Linked DNA regions of Homo sapiens. The protein of the gene in region 1 interacts with the protein of each later gene in a pairwise test. Each region holds a gene or a part of one and is shown on either strand. Other genes may lie near its edges.

The links.
Region 2: the proteins of FDPS (region 1) and RNF19B interact in binary tests that used the Homo sapiens proteins (3 or more experiments, as listed by UniProt).

Annotation. Positions count from the first base shown.
Region 1 is NC_000001.11:155,304,846-155,311,865, forward strand, and holds the start of FDPS (farnesyl pyrophosphate synthase), read left to right. Parts: upstream 1-4,020; 5' UTR 4,021-4,120; exon of another isoform or gene 4,121-4,231; intron 4,232-4,943; 5' UTR 4,944-4,944; coding exon 4,945-5,120; intron 5,121-5,197; coding exon 5,198-5,360; intron 5,361-7,020. UniProt on the Homo sapiens protein: Key enzyme in isoprenoid biosynthesis which catalyzes the formation of farnesyl diphosphate (FPP), a precursor for several classes of essential metabolites including sterols, dolichols, carotenoids, and ubiquinones.
Region 2 is NC_000001.11:32,937,774-32,954,064, reverse strand, and holds part of RNF19B (E3 ubiquitin-protein ligase RNF19B), read left to right. Parts: intron 1-2,255; exon of another isoform or gene 2,256-2,585; coding exon of another isoform or gene 2,586-2,771; exon of another isoform or gene 2,772-2,857; intron 2,858-4,290; coding exon 4,291-4,496; intron 4,497-5,698; coding exon of another isoform or gene 5,699-5,701; coding exon 5,702-5,843; intron 5,844-7,500; coding exon 7,501-7,663; intron 7,664-8,436; coding exon 8,437-8,551; intron 8,552-9,905; coding exon 9,906-10,046; intron 10,047-11,605; coding exon 11,606-11,813; intron 11,814-15,536; coding exon 15,537-15,668; intron 15,669-16,291. Other genes in the region: metallothionein-1E-like, read left to right, coding at 2,586-2,771.

The DNA.
Region 1 (7,020 bases):
ATGGACACCATCTCCTTTTATCATTGTGACAACCTAGAAAGAAGGTAGGATCAACAGGCTGTTTTACAGATGAGGGAACTGGGCCGTAGCAAGGTGTGTTCCTTTTCCACTCTGCTGTGGGGCCAGGAGGCTGACGGCTTTGCACAGTGGCGTCTGTAGGGTTTGGAGAGTGGCACCCATAGGAGATGAGATGGAGAGGGTGAGGTTGAGCATTTACCTCCCCAGTTGCCATTCTAGGGACCATTCTCTCCCTATCCCTTGGACCTTACAGGGGTAACAAAGCCCACTGTTATTAGATCTGGGGTAATGCACTATCCGTTGTGGTTTACCAACACCCTGCCCATTCCTTTGTATAATCCTGTTATGAAACACCTTCAAATTATCCCATTTAAGAGAATTCTTTATTTCCTGAAGAAACCCTACCGAATACACTTGTCTGATGCAAAAAGTCTTGTCAGGAGTGGAGCTGGGATTCAGGCCCAGATAGTGGAGCTCCAGAGCCCGAGCTGTAACCACTAAGCTCCATGCCTGCCCCTTGGGACTGTTTCAGTGGGTGGGAAAGGGAGAAGTCTCTGACTCTGGAGTTGGAAAAGAAAGAGAGAGATAGTAGAGAGGACTTCCGGAGGGAAATGAGCATGGGGCCTCATCTTTCTGTATATAGAAGACACAACAAATAAAGAGAGACAAAATTTGTACCCACAGAGAATGTGGCAGACTTCAGGGACTGGGGATTCAGGCCTTGTGCTTGTGGTGTTGGCAGAGACATGGGACTTTAAGGATGGTCTGGCATTACTTTGTTTTTGATACAGGGCCTTCCTCTGTAGCCCAGGCTGGAATGCAGTATCATGATCTCTGCTCACTGCAGTCTCAATCTCCTGGGCTCAGGTGATCCTCCCACCTCAACGTCCCAAGGAGTCGGGACTACAGGCACGCACCACAATGCCCAGCTAATTTTTTTTTTTTTTTTTTTGGTATTTTCTGTAGAGATGGAGTTTCACCACGTTGTCCAGGCTGGTGCAGAACTCCTGGGCTCAAGTGATCTACCCGCCTTCACTTCCCAAAGTACTGGAATTACAGGCATGAGCCACCACGCCCAGCTGTGGTCTGGCAATATTGAACTGACTCCAGAACCAGTTGGGAGGATAGGAATCCCAGATATCCCAGTCCCAAGGGATTAGCAGGAGGTGGGGGGCAGTTCTCCAAAGCAGCCCGTGTCCTGTCCAGCTAAGGGACAGACACTTTGACCTGAAATCAGGCCAGTTTCCTCAGCAGTCTGGCTGACCCTGGTCCACAAGTGACCACATGAAGCATGGTCTGCACTTTGTCACAGGATCATCCCTGAGCAAGAGGCCTGTGGGTGAGAAACAGAAGCCCAGCATCCAAACACAACACTCAGCTTTGTCAGTTGAGAGCCCTCCCTCCTGCCACAAACACACATGCTCCAACAGCCACACTCACACATGCACAGACACAAACGCAGGTGGCTTTTCATTCCACAGGCATGGACTGAACCCCCATATGGGCCGTGCCCCGACGCATGCCAGACTGGAGGAGGTGAGGCCACTGGGCCCAGGTCTCTGCTCAGTGTGGGGATGGAGACAGGAGCGAGGCCAGTCAGGTTTAATAAAGGAAGTCGGGGGGCACTGACAGAACTGTGCTCAGCACACAGAGGGACACCAGGAGAGACAGAGCATTGTGAGTGAGGGCAGAAGGAGGTCAGGGCAGCTTAACAGACGAGGTGCCCCCTGGTCAGACACATACACACACGTAAACATACACAAAGCTCCCCACCATTCCACACACACACACAAATACGTACTCCACTCTAACACTCACACAATATCCACACTCACACATGCAGATTTATGTATCCGGAATTGGTGGGTTCTTGGTCTCACTGACTTCAAGAATGAAGCCGCGGACCCTCGCAGTGAGTGTTACAGTTCTTAAAGGTGGTGTGTCCGGAGTTTGTTCCTTCTGATGTTCAGATGTGTTCGGAGTTTTTTCCTTCTGGTGGGTTCGTGGTCTTGCTGGCTCATGAGTGAAGCTGCAGACCTTCGCGGTGAGTGTTACAGCTGTTAAGGCCGCGCATCTGGAGTTGTTCATTCCTCCTGTTTCATTCCTCCCGGAGCGATCTCGGTTCACCACAACCTCTGCCTCCCGGGTTCAAGCGATTCTCCTGCCTCAGCTTCTCGAGTAGCTGGCACTACAGGTGTGCGCCACCATGCTGGGCTAATTTTGGATTTTTTAGTAGAGATGGGGTTTCACTATGTTGGCCAGGCTGGTCTTGAACTCCTGACCTCGTGATCCGCCCACCTTGGCCTCCCAAAGCTCTGGGATTACAGGCGTGAGCCACTGCACCCAGCCGTGTTTTGTCCAATTCTTTGTTCAAGATGCCAAGAACCTGGACACCCTCCACCGGTGACAGTACCTTATATACACGGAATCATACAGTATCTGTCCTTTTGAGTCTGGCTTATTTCACTTAGCATAATTGTCAGAGGTGCGTGAACCAGAGCAACTCCATCTTGAATAGGGACTGGGTAGAATAAGGCTGAGACCTACTGGACTGCATTTCCAGTTGGTTTAGGCATTCTAAGTCACAGGATGAGATAGGAGATTGGCTCAAGATACAGGTCATAAAGACCTTGCTGATAAAACAGATTGCAGTAAAGAAACTGGCCAAAACCTACCAAAACCAAGATGGCAACAAGAGTGACCTCTGGTGGTCTTCAACGCTATACTCCTACCACATGCTGTGTCGACATCAGGGAGTTAACTGTATATGGTCTACAAAGCAGAGGCATGAATAATCCAACCCTTGTTTAGCTTATAATCAATAAATAACTGCCTGGGCCAAGTGGCTCGTACTTGTAATCCCAGCACTTTCAGAGGTCGAGGTGGCTGGATCACTTGAGGTCAGGAGTTCGAGACCAGGCTGGCCAATCTGGAGAAACCCCCTCTCTACTAAAAACACAAAAATTAGCTGGGCATGCTGGCAGGCACCTGTAATCCAGGAGAATCACTTGAACCCGGGAAGCGAGGTTGCAGCCTCCCACGTAGCTGGAATTAAGGCGCGGACCAGCACACCTGGGTAATTTTTGTATTTTTAGTAGAGAAGGGGTTTTGCCATGTTGACCAGGCTGGTCTCAGATTCCTGACCGCAGGTGATCCGCCCAAAGTGCTGGAATTACAAGTGTGAGACTCATCTTTTTTTTTTTTTTTTTTTGAGACGGAGTCTTGCTCTGTCTCCCCAGCTAGAGTGCAGTGGTTCGCTGGATCTCAGCTCACTGCAACCTCTGCCTTACGAGTTCAAGCGATTCTCCCGCCTCAGCCCTCCTGAGTGGCTGGGATTACAGGCGCGCGCCACCACGCCCGACTAATTTTTTTTTTTTGTATTTTTAGTAGAGACGGGGTTTCACCACATTGGTCAGGCTGGTCTCGAACTCCTGACCTCATGATCCACCCGCCTCGGCCTCCCAAAGTGCTGGGATTACAGGCGTGAGCCACCGTGCCCGGCCCAAGACTCATCTTTCTTAAGCCCTTAAAGCACTTTGCACACATTACCTCATGGTATTACCACCCTCATTCAACAGATGAGGAAAGCTAGTTTCAAGCAAGTTCACTGAGGATCAGAGACGTTAAATGATTTGCCTAAAGTTAGAGAACTAATAAGTGAGAAAGCTAGTCCTGCTGCGTTTTACTAACGTGCCAATCAGCTGCCCAGGAAGATAATGAAAACTTGAGTAAGACAGGCAGCCAAAGCCACAGCGGGGACGTTCCCAGCCTGGCTCGCTTCCGGCACTGACGCCTCCAGCCGCGACCTCTAGACTTCAGCCCTTCCATTGGTCGTCCGTCACAGTGCCACAGTGCGCCATGCTCACACGACGGCCAGCAGCCAATCAGCGCGGCTCATCTTCGCCCAGCCAGGACACGCAGGATCGCGTTATCTGTCCCTCCCGCGGGCACATTGGGAGTTGTAGTCTAATTATATATTTCCGCCCTTAGTGTGGGGAGAGCGGGAACTACTCGACCCACAGAGCCGATCGCGGAGCGGATTCTGCTTTTAGGAGTACCCGCCAACAAGCGGGACCGAGCAGGAATCCGTATCTGGGAACAGGTGAGAGAGGATGTGTGCTGGGCCTTGGAGGAAGGGGGCCGAGACCGGGCCTTACTTCTGTAACGATACTGTGAGGCATCGGAAGGCCAGCCTGTTGTGTCCGTTTTGAAGGTCGGTGGGCTAGACTGGCTGGCCTTCTAGGGGTGTGGAGACTTCCCAACTCTGCCCTTGTGCTTTCCTGGAATCCCCAATATGCCCGGACCCCGGTTTACTCCTTTGCTGCGAGCCCTTCTCTCCCGTCCAGAGTTGCTCCGAGCCTATCTGCTCAGTCCTAGCGATTCCTGTGGGGCTTGGGACGCGCGGTTCAAGCACCCCGGACCATATGGATGCAGCACCCATGGGTTCTCGCTCCAATGCTTCTTTCCTCCTTGGGGCGTAACTCAGACCCTGGGCACCCCTCTCCACTGCCCAGGGGAGACCTGGGTTCTAGATTTGGCTCTGCCTCTACTATCTTCCTACCTCCTAGAGCCTCAGTTTGGCTTGTGTAAAATAGGATGACTTAAGGGTCCTTTCAGCCCCTAATCCTGGGGTACTTTACTCTGTACCGCCTCCTTACCCAGCCTTGTGCACGCCATCTTGAAGGCACTGAGTTCTAGCCTGTTTATTGTAAGTGGTGATTAGTTGGGTCTCAGTCACCCAGCCATACTTTTTTGTTCCCTGCGTATCCTTCCTGTAATTGTCCCCAAGCACATTCCACAAGAGGGAGGGGCACTCTGGGCTAAGGCTGGGGTGGGAGTTATCTGGGGAGCTGCCACCATGCCTCTGCCTTTGGTGCTTGCCCCTGCAGGGAGTGCTTAGTGCCCCCTCCCTATGCCACTCCCAGGATGCCCCTGTCCCGCTGGTTGAGATCTGTGGGGGTCTTCCTGCTGCCAGCCCCCTACTGGGCACCCCGGGAGAGGTGGCTGGGTTCCCTACGGCGGCCCTCCCTGGTGCACGGGTACCCAGTCCTGGCCTGGCACAGTGCCCGCTGCTGGTGCCAAGCGTGGACAGAGGAACCTCGGTGAGTGTGGTTGGGGTGAGGGGCCTTGGGGAGGGGAGCAGCTGATCAGGTTTCTGACTTGTTTTTCTTCTACTTAGAGCCCTTTGCTCCTCCCTCAGAATGAACGGAGACCAGAATTCAGATGTTTATGCCCAAGAAAAGCAGGATTTCGTTCAGCACTTCTCCCAGATCGTTAGGGTGCTGACTGAGGATGAGATGGGGCACCCAGAGATAGGAGATGCTATTGCCCGGCTCAAGGAGGTGAGGGATTCATGACTTGGGGGAGTAAGGCTTTGGTTCAGTTGCTCTGTACCTGTGTGGCATTCACCTGTGGCTTATGGGGGACTTTTGACAGATGTGAGAGAAAGCTTTTTTTTTTTTTTTGAGACAGAGCCTTGCTCTGTCACCTGGGCTGGAGTGCGATGGTGTGATCTCGGCTTGCTGCAACCTCCACCTCCTGGGTTCAAGTGATTCTCCTGCCTCAGCCTTCTGAGTAGCTGGGATTACAGGTGCGTGCCACCACATCCAGCAAACTTTTGTATTTTTAATAGAGACGGGGTTTCACTGTGTTGACCAGGCTGGTCTCGAACTCCTGACCTCAGGTGATCCACCCACCTCGGCCTCCCAAAGTGCTGGGATTACAGGTGTGAGCCACCGCGCCTGGCCGAGAAAGCTTTTACCTGAGGGACTCGAGTCTGCTCTGGAGAGGTTGGGGCCTGGGCAAGTATACTTACTCAGTCCATCAACCGGACTTTTGGCTCTGATGGAAGGTGGGTCATCCAAACTGCTTTGCTTTGGGGGTGGAGGCCTTGAACCTGGCAAGTCTTAGATTTTGTGTCCTGAAATCAGAAGCTGTTAGGTTGGCAGAGACCGGGGAAGAAGGCAGTCTGATATTGTCCTATCTCCCTGGGGCCTGAGTGAAGTTATTGTATCATTAGAAACCCCTATTCTAGAACATGAACTATTGCTGTGATACTTGCCAATTTTTTTCCTGTTGATTCTGGAGTATCTATTAAAATTCTTTTTATAAATGCTGTCTATCTCATATATCTCAGGGGAATGAAGGGAAAGGGGGGCTTTGCCTATACTGGAATGGGGATTAAAAGAGTCTTGGCCCGGCATGGTGGCTCACGCCTGTAATCCCAGGACTTTGGGAGGCTGAGGTGGGGGGGATCATGAGGTCAGGAGTTCGAGACCAGCCTGGTCAACATGGTGAAACCCCCGTCTCTACTAAAAATACAAAAATTAGCTGGGCGTGGTGGCGCCCACATGTAGTCCCAGCTACTCAGGAGGCTGAGGCAGGAGAATCACTTGAACCTGGGAGGCGGAGGTTGCAGTGAGCCGTGATTGTGCCACTGCACTCCAGCCTGAGTGACATAGCGAGATGAAGTCTTCCCTGTTAGTTAGGTCTGATTGATAGCCAGGCAGCAGAAGGCAAAGTGAGATGCAAGAGGAGACACTACTGGAGGAGTGGGAGATGGATCCCACAGCGTGGGTCCCCTGTAAGCTGTCTTCTGGCTGACTTTGGAGAGGCTTTGTTTTAATATAATGAAGGAGGCTTTTCATTTGCAGGAGGGTTGAACCCTGGTAGGCAGAGGTGGCTGGAAAAGTAGGGATGGGTTGTGAAGGGGAAGTCTAGGAGAGGTGGGGATGGGGAAGGAAACTGGGGAGGGACCTGAACAAGCCAGTCATCCCTATAGCATGTACTGAGTTTTCCGTGGGTTCAAGCCCTGTTCTGGGTTTGGGAGCAGCATTTAATCTGCACTATGGAGGTTTTAAATTTATTGGGAGGCCAAGGCGGGTGGATGACTTGAGGTCAGTAGTTCGAAACCAGCCTAGCCAACATGGTGAAACTCTGTCTCTACTAAAAATACAAAAATTAGATGGGCATGGTGGTGGGCACCTGTAATCCCAGCTACTC
Region 2 (16,291 bases), about 120 Mb from region 1:
TGGTGGCGGGCGCCTGTAAGCCCAGCTACTTGGGAGGCTGAGGCAGGAGAATCGCTTGAACCCAGGAGGCAGAGGTTGCAGTAAGCCGAGAGCACGCCATTGCACTCCAGCCTGGGCAACAAGAGTGAAACTCCGTCTCAAAAAAAAAAAAAAAAAAAAAAAAGAAGTGGGGGCTGGGGGAATGTTAATAAACATTTACTTCTGCCATGTGAGGTAGGAATGGATGATGAAGTGTTCAAGGCTCCCTACTGGATGTCCACTTAATTTGTATCTTTAGAAGTTGACTTAGTGCTTTTCTGAGGTCATCCAGTAACTTTCCCATTTAATGCAAAATAACAAGCTAGTCACTGTCTTGAGGAGACACGTTGTTTATCTTTAGTAGTTATTTTGCAGCTAGGTGGGGTAAATTTGCCCAGAACTCCTACAGGATATGAATCATTTGCATTCATAGACTGACCTGTTCTCACTTTGTTCTTTCTGAAAAGAGTTTTAATACAGCCTGTATTATATAACATAGGGGATACATTGTCATTTATATTTTCAGCATCATTCTCAAGTCAATTTGCAGACTCTATGATAAACCTGAGAACTTGAGTTGCTATGATTAACATCTCATGTACATTCAAATAAACAAGCAAACTGTAGAATAAATCCCAGAAAATGTTATTAGCTTTTTGTACACGTTATTTGAGGTCTTTGAATATTGCGGGAGAGTATTGGAATAGAGGACAGAGTGCAGATGGCAACACGGAAACCTGCAATTACTGATGTTTTTAAAAATGTGTGTCATAGACCAAGCTTGGTGGCTCACGCCTGTAATCCCAATGCTTTGGGAGGCTAAGGCGGGAGGGTTGCTTGAAGACAGAAGTTCCAGACCAGCCTGGGCAACATAGCAAGACCAACCCTGTCTCTACAAAAAAAAAATAAAAAGAAAAAAGAAAAAGTTAGCTGGGCATGGTGGTATGCACTGGTACTTGGAGGCCTGAGGTGGGATCACTTGAGCCCAGGAGTTTCAGGTTGCAATGAGCTATCATCACACCACTGTCCAGAAGCTGGGCAACAGAGTGGGACCTTGTCTTCAAAAAAAAAAAAAAAAAAAAAATTGTGTGATTAACTTTCATAACTTTCCATTTATTTATTTATTATTTTTTTTAGACAGAATCTCACTCTGTCACCCAGGCTGGAGTGCAGTGGCGCAAACGTGGCTCACTGGAGCCTCAACCTCCCAGCCTCAAGCAGTCCTCCCACCTCAGCCTCCCAAGTAGCTGTGACTGCAGGCCTGTGTCACCATACCTGGCTGATTTTTTTTTTTTTTTGAGATGGAGTCTCACACTGTCACCCAGGCTGGAGTGACACCCATGGTGGCGCAATCTCTGCTCACTGCAACCTCCACCTCCCGGGTTCAAGCGATTCTCCTCCCTCAGCCTCCTGAGTAGCTGGGATTACAGGCGCCCGCCACCATGCCCAGCTAATTTTTTGTATTTTTAGTAGAGACAGCGTTTCACCATGTTGGCCAGGCTGGTCTCGAACTCCTGACCTTGTGACTTGCCTGCCTCAGTGTCCCAAAGTGCTGGGATTACAGGTGTGAGCCACCACGCCAGGCTGTTTTTTTTTTTTTTTTTTTTTTTTTTTTTTAAGAGAAAAGGTCTTGCTGTGTTGCCCAGGCTGGTCTAAAAATGCTGGCCTCAAGCGATCTTCCTGCCTCAGCCTCCCAAAGTGCTGAGATTACAGGCATGAGCCATCTCACCTGGCTAAAATGTTATTTTATACAAGTATTATATTTCTTGTTAGAGTAATCTGAGCGCTTAATTGACATATTTGGAATTAATCAGAAAGGCTAATAGTTATATAAATATATTGGATTGTTTGTGTGAGACTAATTCTTGGTAAATGAACATGAACTACAAGAAATGGTCGACATTAGTGCTGATAAATTCTGAATCTTTACATGAAGAATATGTGTCACAGCTGAGTGCAGTGGCTCACACCTGTAATCCCAACACTTTGAGAAGCCAAGACAGGCAAATCACCAGAGGTCAGGAGTTGAAGACCAGTCTTGCCAACATGGTGAAGCCCTGTCTCTACTAAAAAAAAAAAAAAAAAAAAGCCGGGCGTGGTGGCGGGCGCCTGTAATCCCAGCTACTCGGGAGGCTGAGGCAGGAGAATCACTTGAATTTGGGAGAAGATTGCAGTGAGCCGAGATCACGCCACTGCGCTCCATCCTGGGCGATATAGTGAGACTCTGTCTCAAAAAAAAAAAAAGAATATGTGTCAGAAGAGAGAAAGGGAGGTATGGCCTTAATGCTATTTTAATTTATAAGATAGAGGCCTGGTATTCTTGGATTCTGGAGCCTATCAAGACATTTCAAGGTATAGGTTTGAATTGAAAAAGTATGGAAAGATAAGATGAGCTTTCAAGAGGGATGCTGATCATAAGTCTTTAGGGTTTATTGTCTCTGTGACTATGGTCAGACCAGCTTCACTGTGGAACTGGAACTTAAGAATGAAAAAGGCAGCATGCTTTCCAACTGCCTGACTGCTTGTTGGCCTCACCGGTGGGAGCTCCAGCATCTCCTTTGCTCGAAATGGACCCCAACTGCTCCTGTGCCACTGGTGGCTCCTGCATGTGCGCCGGCTCCTGCAAGTGCAAAGAGTGCAAATGCACCTCCTGCAAGAAGAGCTGCTGCTCCTGCTGCCCCGTGGGCTGTGCCAAGTGTGCCCAGGGCTGCATCTGCAAAGGGGCGTTGGAGAAGTGCAACTGCTATGCCTGACGTGGGGACAGCTCTGCTCCCAGATGTAAATAGAGTAACCTGCACAAACCTGGATTTTTTAAAAAATACAACACTGAGCCATTTGCTTCATTTCTTTTTATATTAAATATGTTAATGACAATAAAACAATTTTTACTTGAAGAAAAAAAATGAAAAAGGCTGAGTGCAGTGGCTCACGCCTGTAATCCCAGCACTTTGGGAGGCCGAGGAGGGCGGATCATAAGGTCAAGAGATCGAGACCATCCTGGCCAACATGGTGAAACCCTATCTCTACAAAAATACAAAAATTAGCTGCGCATGGTGATGCATGCCTATAGTCCCAGCTACTAAGGAGGCTGAGGCAGGAGAATCGCTTGAACCCGGGAGGCGGAGGTTGCAGTGAGCCGAGTCGCGCCACTGCACTCCAGCCTGGCGACAGAGCGAGACTCCATCTCAAAAAAAAAAAAAAAAGAATGAAAAGGTAGCATGGTGGCTCATGCCTGTAATTCCAGCACTTTGGGAGGCTGAGGCAGGCTGATTGATTGAGCCCGGAAGTTTGCGACCAGCCTGGGCAATGGGGCGAAACCCCATCTCTATGCAAATTACAAAAATTAGCCAAGTGTGGTGGTGCGCACCTGTAGTCCCAGCTACTCTAGAGGCTGAGGCAAGAGGATTGCTTGAGCCTGGTATGCGGAGGTTGCAGTGAGCCACTGCATTCCACCCTGGGTGACAGTGAGACCCCATCTCAAAAAAAAAAAAGAAGGAATTAAAAAATAAACTTTAGTTTTTGCCATAGCTCTTTATTTCACTAATGTCCTCTTCCTTCGTATAAACAAATACTAATCTCTCTAAATATAGCAAACTATCAAAAGGAAATAGTTTTGTACCCTGTTATTTATGAAACTTATTATGACAAACTACTCCTAAAGCAGCTTCAGCTATGATTGAATAAATGCTGGAAATCCAGGATAAATAAGATACTCCACCTCCACTTTTTAAAGTAAATAAATGATTTGTGTTTTTGGAATCTCAAGAAATTTATAGCCAGGCATGGTGGCTCACGCCTGTAATCCCAGCACTTTGGGAGGCCGAGGCGGGTGGATCACCTGAGGTCAGGAGTTTGAGACCAGCCTGGCCAACATGGTGAAACCCCATCTCTACTAAAAATACAAAAAAAATTAGCCAGGCGTGGTGGCTTGCACCTGTAATCCCAGCTACTAGGGAGTCTGTGGCAGGAGAATTGCTTGAACCTGGGAGGTGGAGGTTGTAGTAAGCCGAGATTACACCACTGCACTCCACAATCCAGCCTGGGTGACAGAGCAAGACTGTCTCAAAAAAAAAAAGTTTACTTTCTCACATGGGATATATTTTACAGTTGGTCAAATGTGCTTGTGTGTGTATATGTGTGTATGTGTATTCTTTTCTCTGTATCATATGTGATAGTGGGGTAGTGCCAAACATTGTTAACTCTGATGAATAATGTCTCTTTTGGTTAGATCATTCTTACCTTACTGGTATCTCTTACTGTTTCCTTACCTAGTTATGCTGTTATTGCCTATGGCTGTGCCAGCTGCCCGAAGCTAACTTGTGAGAGGGAAGGTTGCCAGACTGAGTTCTGCTACCACTGCAAGCAGATATGGCATCCAAATCAGACATGCGATATGGCCCGTCAACAGAGGGCCCAGACTTTACGAGTTCGGACCAAACACACTTCAGGTCTCAGTTATGGGCAAGAATCTGGACCAGGTATAAGTTGGCATTATCTCATTGTCTCTTTATTTGGTATTTCATGATGTGAGCCCATAGCTGAAAGAAATTATCTTATTGTATAACCCAAGTACTCCAAAGGATCAGAGAGCAGAAAATATCATTTGATAATACTTTCAATATTATAATAAAGATAGCACTTCCCTCTCTGACCATTATAGGTTATCCAACTATATAAAATTGAAATGCAACAAAATTGAATTATGTAGTTCCTACTTTCTTAGTAATATGTCTCAGATTGGAGAGCAATTAGTTCATTTTGTTTTGCTAGGGGCTTTTTCAAAACTTTCATTGTGAACAGAAAGACATTTAATTAGTATTAAACCTGTGCTGTTTGCCTTCAAGCTGACTTAAGTGCCTCACTGCCTTTGGAAGTAGAGTACAGATTGAAGAAAAGGAAACAGTATTAGTATAGATTAATGATTAACCTTAAAAGGAGGAATGTCACACATTCAGCTCCAACCTTGGCGAGTCAGAGGAAACCTATTTTAAAATGTCAGTGGATTTATTGCTTTGTACTTTTATTTTGCTGATGTCATTTGGGAGAGGCTAGTAGGAAAGATTTTGCCATTCACTTTTTCCTGGCACAGCATAATTTCCTAAATTGTCATTTTATTAGGATAGTTCATAACTTGCTCTGAAAATTACCAAGTATATGGTAGATAGCATACCCAGTTGTTTTTAGGTTTTGAATTTGAAAGTATCATGGGAAGGGATTGTGGGCTATGTTAACAGCAAATCACAATGATACATGTTGAACCTGAAAAATAAATTTCCCAAACTAAAGTTTTTAAAAATGTAAAGCTAATTCCAGGCTGCAGGCTATTCTTTCTGTAGGATTCTTCTTTTAAATCTACCAGCCTATCGACTGGTAGAAATTTCATTTTTCTTGGAAACATCTTTCTCCCTAAGGAAATCTCCTTGCTAGAATGTGGTTCAAGTGCTGTGTAAGATGCCAGTTGTTGGGATAGGCAGCTCAATAAGAGACAGGATTCATTTTATGAAAATTCCTGAGGTCTAGACATAGCCAACCTTCCAGTAAAGTGGGTTGTACAATTTGGAGTGTTCAGTGAAGAGTTCTTGACTGCTGCCTCATTTCTTATATATACTCCTAGGAACAATTAAATCAAACTGGATTTAACTAGGGGTATTTTTTCTACCCATTCTTCCCCCACTCATAGCAGATGACATCAAGCCATGCCCACGATGCAGTGCATACATTATCAAGATGAATGATGGAAGCTGTAATCACATGACCTGTGCAGTGTGTGGCTGTGAATTCTGTTGGCTTTGTATGAAAGAGATCTCAGACTTGCATTACCTCAGGTAAGATGGGAAATGCATCCATTCCTTTCGTAGTCTCATTCTCTTACTGATTTAGGGAAAAGGATGTCAAAAAGACACATCCGTTCTCTCATTACAGGTTTAAGGAAGCTGTGAAAACTTCTTCTGACATGCTCCTCTAATCATGTTTTCACCAGCTACTATTCTGTTTCTACCTTTCTTTGCTTGCCATATTACAGGTAGTCTGGACTTGCTTTTTCCCTTTTGCTGTCTTGCCTCCATACTTGTTCATGTTCTTTCCTTTGCCTAGAATGCTTTCTGCCTACCTTCCAGTATCCTCCTTTTATCTCAACTTGTTCAGTTCTTATCTTTTAAGAGCCACTTAAATGCCTTTCATCCATGTTGCCTCTCCTTTTTCCGCCTCATTCTTTGACTTTCTTTTATCTTTTGTCATAAATATCGTCAGTACTTTACACTTCACGTACCTATCTTATCTTACTAAACTGTAAGTATCTTGAGGCTAGAGTTGTGACCTTTTTACAGTTTTTTGCATTTAGTGAGTTCCCAAGGAATTCATTAAGTGAATTCTTTTTTTTTTTTTTTTTAAGACAGAGTTTCTCTCTGTCGCCCAGGCTGGAGTGCAGTGGCTCGATCTCGACTCACTGCAACCTCCACCTCCCAGGTTCAAGTGATTGTCCTGCCTCAGCCTCCTAAGTAGCTGGGATTACAGGCACCTGCCACCATGCCCAGCTAATTTTTGTATTTTTAGTGGAGGCGGGGTTTCACCATGTTAGCCAGCCTGGTCTCGAACTCGAACCTCAGGTGGTCCGCCTGCCTCGGCCTCCCAAAGTTCTGGGATTACAAGCGCGAGCCACCGCGCCCAGCCTCATTGAGTGAATATTAAAATGTTGTGGAGGAGTTAATATTTACAAACAAAATGTTTGCTAATATTTACAAATAAACAAAATGTGTTAATATTTACAAACAAACATTCATTGTGTAAATGAAACACAACACCTTCATTGCCAATTTGTCGAACATTTGAGTACTTACTGTGTGCTAGTCATTGGGGACATAGGGGTGAGTAAGACATGATCCCTATTTTCAAAATTGTTTATCCCTTCTAGTGGAGAAGATAGCACAAAGAGAATGGGCAAAAATGGTTGGGCACAGAAGGGCTGACTGTAAAAGTAGCCAAACTCAGAATACCAAACTGATAGAAAGGTTATGATGAGGTCTTTTTATATCCTCTCCCACGAACATGGTTTGCAGTATCTATTAGGTATGGTAGGACATATGCCAAGAAAACTACACAAATCAGAGTGTTCATTAGTGCAGGGTGCAGTGTGTCTGGATGGGATGTCAAGTGCATAAGGCTATGCAGCATCCCAAGTATTGTCAGTCATGGAAGCTAGATCAGTTTTGGTGGGTTAGGGAAGACAGAATTCAGCAGAGAAGAATGGAAAAGGAATTTCAAGTCTGGAAGCCTGTCTTTACAACAACAACCAAAAAAGTTAAAGAGCCCAGAGCTCTAATAGTCTGGCCTTGTCCTTTGCTCTCCCTTGTGTAATGTATTCATTTCCCATAAACTCTTCTGTTAATCCTTACTGAAAAGAAGGCTGTTGCTGTTATCAAGCCCTATGATAATACTAGCTGTATTTGTAATGTTGACATTAACTTCAGTCTGTTTCCCCTGCAGCCCCTCTGGCTGTACATTCTGGGGCAAGAAGCCATGGAGCCGTAAGAAGAAAATTCTTTGGCAGCTGGGCACGTTGATTGGTGCTCCAGTGGGGATTTCTCTCATTGCTGGCATTGCCATTCCTGCCATGGTCATTGGCATTCCTGTTTATGTTGGAAGGAAGGTAAGAAAGACATGCTGGTTTCTGTGCTTGTTTCAACTTTAGGTTCGTTAGTAAAGGTTTGAGGGAAATGGGAAGGAGCTATGTTTCAGAGCTGCCTGAAAACCAGCTGGTTCTTAGATAAAAATAACCTTACTTTCTTAAATGGATTTTCATAAACCCCCATGAGATCTGAAAGTTCTTATTAACATCCTGGGCCTGGCTTGTCTCAGTGACTTAAAGGTAGAATGCTGGGCCAGGCATGATGGTTCACATTTGTAATACGTGGCCTAGCACTTTGGGAAGCCAAGGCAGGTAGATCAGTTGAGCCCAGGTGTTTGAGACCAGCCTGGGCAACATGACAAAACCCATCTGTACCCAAAAAAATAGAAAAATTAGCTGGGTATGGTGGCATGTGCCTACAGTCCCAGCTACTAGGGAGGCTGAGGTGGGAGGATTGCTTGAGCCCAGGGACGTAGAGGTTGCAGTGAGCCAAGATCGCACCACTGCACTCCAGCCTGCATGACAGACTCCAAAAAAAAAAATAAAAGAAGAAGGTAAAATGCTTACTTCATTCTGCTGGAGTTATTTTGTCTCTTTTTGGATTAACTTTGCCTGTATTACTTTATATCTTCCAGGTCTGAGTTAGGTTAAAATTTGATAAAGATGCCTATTTGGGGTAGAGGATATGTTTTAATATAGATAACTTACAAGTGAATATTCACCTGTCCTTTTTTTCTCTGGCAAAAGATTGATGTCCTAACCTGCTGACCTGGATTTTCTTTTTTTATTCTTAGATTCACAGCAGGTATGAGGGAAGGAAAACCTCCAAACACAAGAGGAATTTGGCTATCACTGGAGGAGTGACTTTGTCGGTCATTGCATCCCCAGTTATTGCTGCAGTTAGTGTTGGTAAGCTAGTCAGGACCACACCTCTTCTCTCTCAGCTTTCTGACCATAGCAGTTTAGCCAGATGGCCAGATGTTTCTCAAAGACTCCTACATTTTATGCGAACCCACCTTGATAGTAAATTCTGTTAGGCACCATGATTATGATTATTTTTAAGTTTTTCAAGCACACCAAATTATCAGAGTGTGCAATCTTTTGTTCTTAAGTTAGTGCCTAGAACTCCATTTGGCACATAGAAAAGGTTGAATTACAGAAACTTATTTTAAGCCCTAGTTTTCACCTTTCATCTTCCTTCTCTACTTGCCATGAAATCCACAAAACAAAATTACTTTTGTTTTGATTTGTTTAATGCTTCACATTACTTTGGGAGGCATAAGAGTTTGTTTTAGAATAATAATAGTGTAACTAACATTTAATGTGGCTCTTCATGTGCCAGGAGTGGTTCTGAGACTTTTGCATATATTAATTTATTTAATCCTCACAATCCTTACAAAAGGAAGCACAATTTTAATAGAAAGGTGCAGTAATTGGCTGGGCGCAGTGGCTCACGCCTGTAATTCCAGTGTTTTGGGAGGCCGAGGCGGGCGGATCACGAGGTCAGGAGATCGAGACCATCCTGGCTAACACGGTGAAACCCCATCTCTACTAAAAATACAGAAAATCAGCCGGGTGTGGTAGCGGGTGCCTGTAGTCCCAGCTACTTGGGAGGCTGAGGCAGGAGAATGGCGTGAACCTGGGAGGCGGAGCTTGCAGTGAGCCGAGATCGTGCCACTGCACTCCAGCCTGGGCAACAGAGTGAGACTCCGTCTCAAAAAAAAAAAAGAAAGGTGCAGTAATTTTCCCAAGGTCACTTAGCTGGGACATGAATCAAGTTAATCTGCCTTCAGATCCTGTTCTCTTAACAGCTAAGCCATTCTACCTCACACAGCAGTAAGATTTTGGAATTAACATCCTGAGGAGATCCTAAACTCCAAGCAGTAGTCACTTATTTAATATTTGATTCTTGATTGGCTCTTGATTGGGTTAGCATTTCAGCAGTGATTAGAAGAGGGGAAAATGAAAGCAACATATATTTACTGTGCAAAACACAGTACATAGCATTCTCATTTGATTATTGACAACCCTGGGAAGATAGGTCCAAGGTTATACAGCTAGTAAATGGAGCCAAGAATCTAATCCAGACCTTTCTGATTTCTAGCCTGGTCATCATTCTGTTACACCAGGCCACCTTTTTGGGATAGCCACTTTCTGTCTTCCTTTCTTTATAAAGTGGTTTGTCCATGCCCAGACTGGGAAGAAGAATTCAGGGCACTTGCAACCTAATAGCCAGCTGACATGTTTCCTTCTCTTCCCCCAGGTATTGGTGTCCCCATTATGCTGGCATATGTTTATGGGGTTGTGCCCATTTCTCTTTGTCGTGGAGGCGGCTGTGGAGTTAGCACAGCCAACGGAAAAGGAGTGAAAATTGAATTTGATGAAGATGATGGTCCAATCACAGGTAAAAAGCAGGATGTTTATTTCCATTTGAATTTATGATATACAAGATAAAAATCAGTAAAATTCAGCGCATTTTACAGGGAGATTGTCATTGGATTACTTTGGATAATGAGCTTTGTAGGGGGTAAAGTATTTTTAGCTTTTCATTTCTTTGTTCCAAAGTTATTAGGTTAATTCCCCTGGTACTTGCCTCTGTGTGGCAGGTACAAACTAGTAGGAATCCAAGTAACTCCAAGTATGCTGGTAGTAGTAGTGATTATAATAACATCTTTATATCTGCACAGTACTTGATAATTTTCAGAGTATTTTACACAATTATCTCACTTGCTTTTTACAACAAACAGCTCTCTGACGAGGGAGGATGGAGCTGTTATCCCCATTTAAATGGGAATTTCTTTTTTTTTTTTTGAGACGGAGTCTCTGTCACCCAGGCTGGAGTACGATGTCGCGATCTCGGTTCACTGCAACCTCCGCCTCCCAGGTTCAAGTGATTCTCCTGCCTCAGCCTCCTGAGTAGCTGGGACTACAGCAACGTGCCACCACGCCTGGCTAATTTTTTTTTTTTAGTATAGACGGGGTTTGGTGTTTCACCGTGTTAGCCAGGAAGATCTCGATCTCCTCACCCCATGATCCGCCCACCTTGGCCTCCCAAAGTGCTGGGATTACAGGTGTGAGCCACCACATCTGGCCTAAATGGGAATTTCTTTAAGCTTTCATCTTACTATCTATTAAGAGCTTCACAGAGCTGAGACTAGGGCAAGTCTTCTGACTTTTACTTTAATGTGGTTTCTACTCGTAGTAAGTAACGTAGGGCACAAGTAACGTAGAAAACCCCAAAGGTTTTTCTAGCTTCCTTTTTTCTTTTCTTTTTTTTTTTTTGAGACGGAGTCTTGCTCTGTTGCCCAGGCTGGAGTGCAGTGGCATGGTCCTGGCTCACTGCAGGCTCCGGCTCCTGGGTTCGCGTCATTCTCCTGCCTCAGCCTCCCGAGTAGCTGGGACTACAGGCACCCGCCACCACGCCCGGCTAAATTTTTTGTATTTTTAGTAGAGATGGGGTTTCACCGTGTTAGCCAGGATGGTCTCCATCTCCTGACCTCGTGATCCGCCCGCCTCGGCCTCCCAAAGTGCTGGAAGTACAGGCGTGAGCCACCGCGCCCGGCCGGTTTTTCTAGCTTTCTACTAGAAGCTTCCTATTAAAATCAGCACATGACCCAAACATATTTTTTAAATCTTCACGTTTGGTTACATGGAAGCAACAGTGTAGTGGAAAGAATAGTGGCCTTGGAATCAGAGTTATAGTTTCATGTAACTACCATGGCCTTGGACAAGTCATTTAGTTTTAAATTTTAGTTTTCTCATCTAAAATTGAGGCTATTAATGCCTAGTTATTTGGAGGATTAAATATGAACATATGTTAAAACACCTGATATGTGGCGACTGCACACAGTACCTGTTCATTAAGTAAATACATTAGTTCTCTGAAAAGTCATTGCAGGAAAATGCCTACTGACTGTTTTGATGCTCTGCTGTCTTGAATTGGATGTTTGGTTCTATCCCCAGTGGCAGATGCCTGGAGAGCCCTCAAGAATCCCAGCATTGGGGAAAGCAGCATTGAAGGCCTGACTAGTGTATTGAGCACTAGTGGAAGCCCTACAGATGGACTTAGTGTTATGCAAGGTCCTTACAGCGAAACGGCCAGCTTTGCAGCCCTCTCAGGGGGCACGCTGAGTGGCGGCATTCTCTCCAGTGGCAAGGGAAAATATAGCAGGTAAACAAATAGATAATTTCTGACAGAAATGGTTAGAATTATAAGAAGTAACACATTGAGCCATTTCTCTGTGCCAGGCTTGTGCCACGTATCATCTTATTTTGATTTAATTGTCAATGGTTTTGTTTTGTTTTGTTTTTACTTTTTTATTTTTAAAGACAGAGTCTCACTCTGTGGCTCAGGCTGGAGTGCCATGGCGTGATCTCGGCTCACTGCAAGCTCCGCCTCCTGGGTTCAAGCGATTCTCCTGCCTCAGCCTACTGAGTAGCTGGGATTACAGGCACCCGCCACCACGCCCAGCTAATTTTTTGTATTTTTAGTAGAGATGGAGTTTCACCATGTTAGCTAGGATGGTCTCAATCTCCTGACCTCGTGATCCGCCCGCCTTGGCCTCCCAAACCGTTGGGATTACAGGCATGAGTCACTGCGACAGGCCTTTTTTTTTTTACTTTTACAAATAGGAAACAAGCTTAGAAAAAAAGGTTACGTCAGTTATGCAAAGTTCATTGTTCTTTCCATTGCACCATAGCTGCCTCTATATAAAGAATAATCCTGACTTGAGATTCCCCCTTGACTGCCTGAGGCTGCCTGCTTCAGGAAGGGAGAGTAGGCATTTTTATAGAATTCGTAAAATGCTCTCCGTTAGGCTTGTCATTGGCTTTCAGTAGCATTTATGCTGTATCATGGCTTATTTATTTTATTTTATTTTTTTGAGACGGAGTCTTGCTCTGTCGCCCAGGCTGGAGTGCAATGGTGCAATCTTGGCTCGCTGCAGCCTCCACCTCCTGGGTTCTAGTGATTGTCCTGCCTCAGCCTCCCAAGAGGCTGGGACTACAGGCGTGCACCACCATGCCTGGCTAATTTTTGTATTTTCAGTAGAGACAGGGTTTCATGTTGGCCAGGCTGGTCTCAAGCTCCTGACCTTGTGATCCACCCGCCTCAGCCTCCCAAAGTGCTGGGATTACAAGCATGAACCACCACACCCAGCCCATCATGGTTTATTGATAGTGGGCTTTGGGGATTTTTTTTTGTTTTTTTTCTCACTGTGTCATCCAGGCTGGAATGCAGTGGCACAATCATGGCTCACTGCAGCCTCAACTTCCTGGACTCAGGCAATCCTACCACCTCAGCCTCCTGAGTAGCTAGGACTACAAGTGCACACACCACACCCAGCTAACATTTTAAATTTTTTGTAGAGATGGGGTCTTGCTCGGTTACCCAGGCTGGTCTTAAACTCCTGGCCTGAAGCCATCCTCCCAACTTGGCTCCCAACGTGCTAGGATTATAGGCATGAACCATTGCCCCCAGCTGGTTTAGTGATACTGCAATCCTTATTACCTTTCTATTTCCATTTGCTAGATAAGGAAAATCAATTCTATGTACTTGTGTTGAAAATATGTAAAGCTTTGTAACTAAAAAGATTGTGACTTGCTTGGTCATTTCACTAGTTAGGCAGACCAGAGTGTATATTTTCAGAGGAGCATAACATGTTGCCTGAGAAGCAGTTGAATGCAACGGAGAAGAAAGGCCTAGGGAGGGGTAAAGGTAGAACAAAGCAGGATAGGAAGGTAGAGGAGATGGTTGCCTTCAGCTATCCAAAGGACCTTCAACTGTGAAAAGGATTAGACTTCTATGCCTCATACCAAAAGGTAGATTAAGATGACTTGGCAGAAGCTAAAGGGAAACTAATTTTGGTTCAGTATAGAGAATATAGGGAAAAGCAACATGAAAGCCCAAAGAGGAAAAAGGCTACTTTAGTAGATACTGAGCTGCCTATCCCTGGAAATGTTTACAATGAGACCAGATGGCTATTTGGCTATAAGAAGGATTCAAGCAACAGATGGCAGGTGGACTGGATCTCCCACCTGAGTGCCTGTCAATCACTTGGGAGCCTCTTAAAAATAGACTTCAGGGACCCATCCCAGAATGAGTAGCTTAGAATTTCCTGGAGTGGCACCTAGGGGGTGATCCGTGTTTTGCAAAAGCTCCCCAGGTAATTCTAGCACAGCCGTTGCATGAACCAGCATCTGACAACCACCTAAGTAGGAGCCCTTTCTGAAAGACTCTTCCAACTCAGAGTGATTCTGTGGCAGACCTGAAACTAGAAGCCAGGTCTCTGACACTGTGCACTTTCCATTGCATTCCCTCATTTCCCTGGGCCTTGGCACATTTTTGAAGGGCACCTGAAGCTGGAGCAGCAAAGCAAAGGCTCAGGCAGTAGGATGGAAGCTGCTTGAATGTGCAGCTGCAGGCTGCTACTGACCCGTCTGTGCATCTCATGACTCTGGTTGTCTCTTATCAGGGGATCCCGCCCCCACATGCTGGCATATTCACTGCTGTGCTTTCTTAAAACCAACACCCCTGTAAATAAGCAGACAGACATAATTGGAGACTGACTTGCTGAAACTGCAGCTTAGCCAGTCCAGCTGTTCTAGTTCTGTGAAAGCCTTTATTTTATAGGAAGTGAATGAGTCAGATGGGTTTGACTGTGAAACCCATTATAAGGAAATACTTAACTGTGCAACAAAGTGATGTTGGAGCCAAGAAAGGCAATAGTTATGGGCTCTGAGACACTATTGGGAAAGTTTGCTGCTCCAAGAGGAGGGAAGAGGTTGGCTCCTGTATGTCCTTCAGTCTCATTCCCTGGAGGTAATTTGATTGTTAAATGTTTGATTTCCTATTATGTGCAAGGCAGGGAAGGTAAAGTGTGTATGAGTTGTGGTCTCTCCTTTTGTGGAGTTAACAGACAAGTGAGAGATGCATAATAATAAGTAGGCAGGGCCTGCGCACGCCTGTAATCCCAGCACCTTTTTTAGGTGGGTGATCACCTGAGGTTTAGAGTTCAAGACCAGCCTGGCCAACATGGTAAAACCCCATCTCTACTAAAAATACAAAAATTAGCTGGGTGTGGTGGTGGGAACCCATAATCCCAGCTACTTGGGAGGCTGAGGCAGGAGAATCGCTTGAACCTGGGAGGCAGAAGTTGCAGTGAGCCAAGATCGTGCCACTGCACTCCAGCCTGGGTGACAGAGTGAGACTCCCTCTAAAAACAAATAATAATAAATAAGTAGGCAGGTGCTGTGGGAGTACTTAGCAAGAAGTGAATGGTTTGCTGGGATAATGAGGGGAAGTGATAGTTCCTTTGTTGTTAAGGACTGAGTATAAGTTTGTCTGGTAGAGAAAGGAAATTTCTAGAGAGACAGAATAGCATGTGCAAAGTCATGGAAGTATAAAATGTATAGGTATTTAAAGAAAGAAAGAATTCAGAGTGACTATGATTTCGGATCTATAGGGAGTGATAGAACTGGACAGAGAGCTTCCTGGCAGATCAGGAAGACCTTAATGCCTGTTGGCAGTAGGGAGCCAAGAGTTAGAGAATTGTTAGAGTGATTGGGTCTTTATTCACACTGGCACTGTTCTAGAGGTTGTTTGACTTGGACTTAAGGGCTACTGGAGAGGGAGCCCAGTTTTAGTCATCCAGGCAGGAGATGATGAAAACCTGAAGTTCAGCAGTAGCTGTGGGGATAGAAAGGAGGGGACGATTTCAATAGATATTTAAGAGAAAAAATGTATGGGCATCTATTTGCGCTGTTTGACAGTTGGAGAAGATCAGACAGACAACCACAATTTGCAAGAGAGTAATGGAAGAGATGTGTGCCAGGAAGCAGACTGTCTTGGAATACCCAGGTCTCATATTAACTTGAACGTCCCCTCTTTACACAGGTTAGAAGTTCAAGCCGATGTCCAAAAGGAAATTTTCCCCAAAGACACAGCCAGTCTTGGTGCAATTAGTGACAACGCAAGCACTCGTGCTATGGCCGGTTCCATAATCAGTTCCTACAACCCACAGGACAGGTATGTGAACAGTCAGATGTCCAGGAGAGGTTGCATTTTTTCGTTGGGTACTAGGTCTTCAGAAGTTCAATGCCTCATGTTAGGGCTGTATGTACCATCTCCTGGGATATATAGTGTAACCTGTGAATTCATTTGAGCAAGTTCTTGGTACTTGAGTGTTTGGCATCTCTTGATTCTTCTTGTTAGCGCTTGATTTTTAGAGATTTCTTTTCTTTCTTCCTTTTATGTATTTTTTCTTTTTTTTTTTTTTTTTTTTGTCTTTCTTGGCTATTGCAACAGTGTATAATTACATGGAACTTAAAGAGCTAGATTGATGTTCATTGATGTCTTCAAGTCTAGGGTTTCTGCTTGCCCTTTGCTTGATAGGATTCCCATAGCTTCTTTCTCTTTCATTTTGAGAAACTGGTGTATCTGGGATGGTGTGATTGTGGTACTCCCACTAGTAGGTATTCTGGCTTCTTCTACTTGTGGCATGGTAGTAAAAAGCTTTTACTTTTCTATTTTGAGTAAGCTAGCATGGGGCTCTGACCCTTAGTTGAATTTTGGAAGCTCTTTCTGTATGTTTAAAGAGATTGGCTGAGATACACGTGTGTGTGCATCTGAGCACACGTGTGCATGTATAG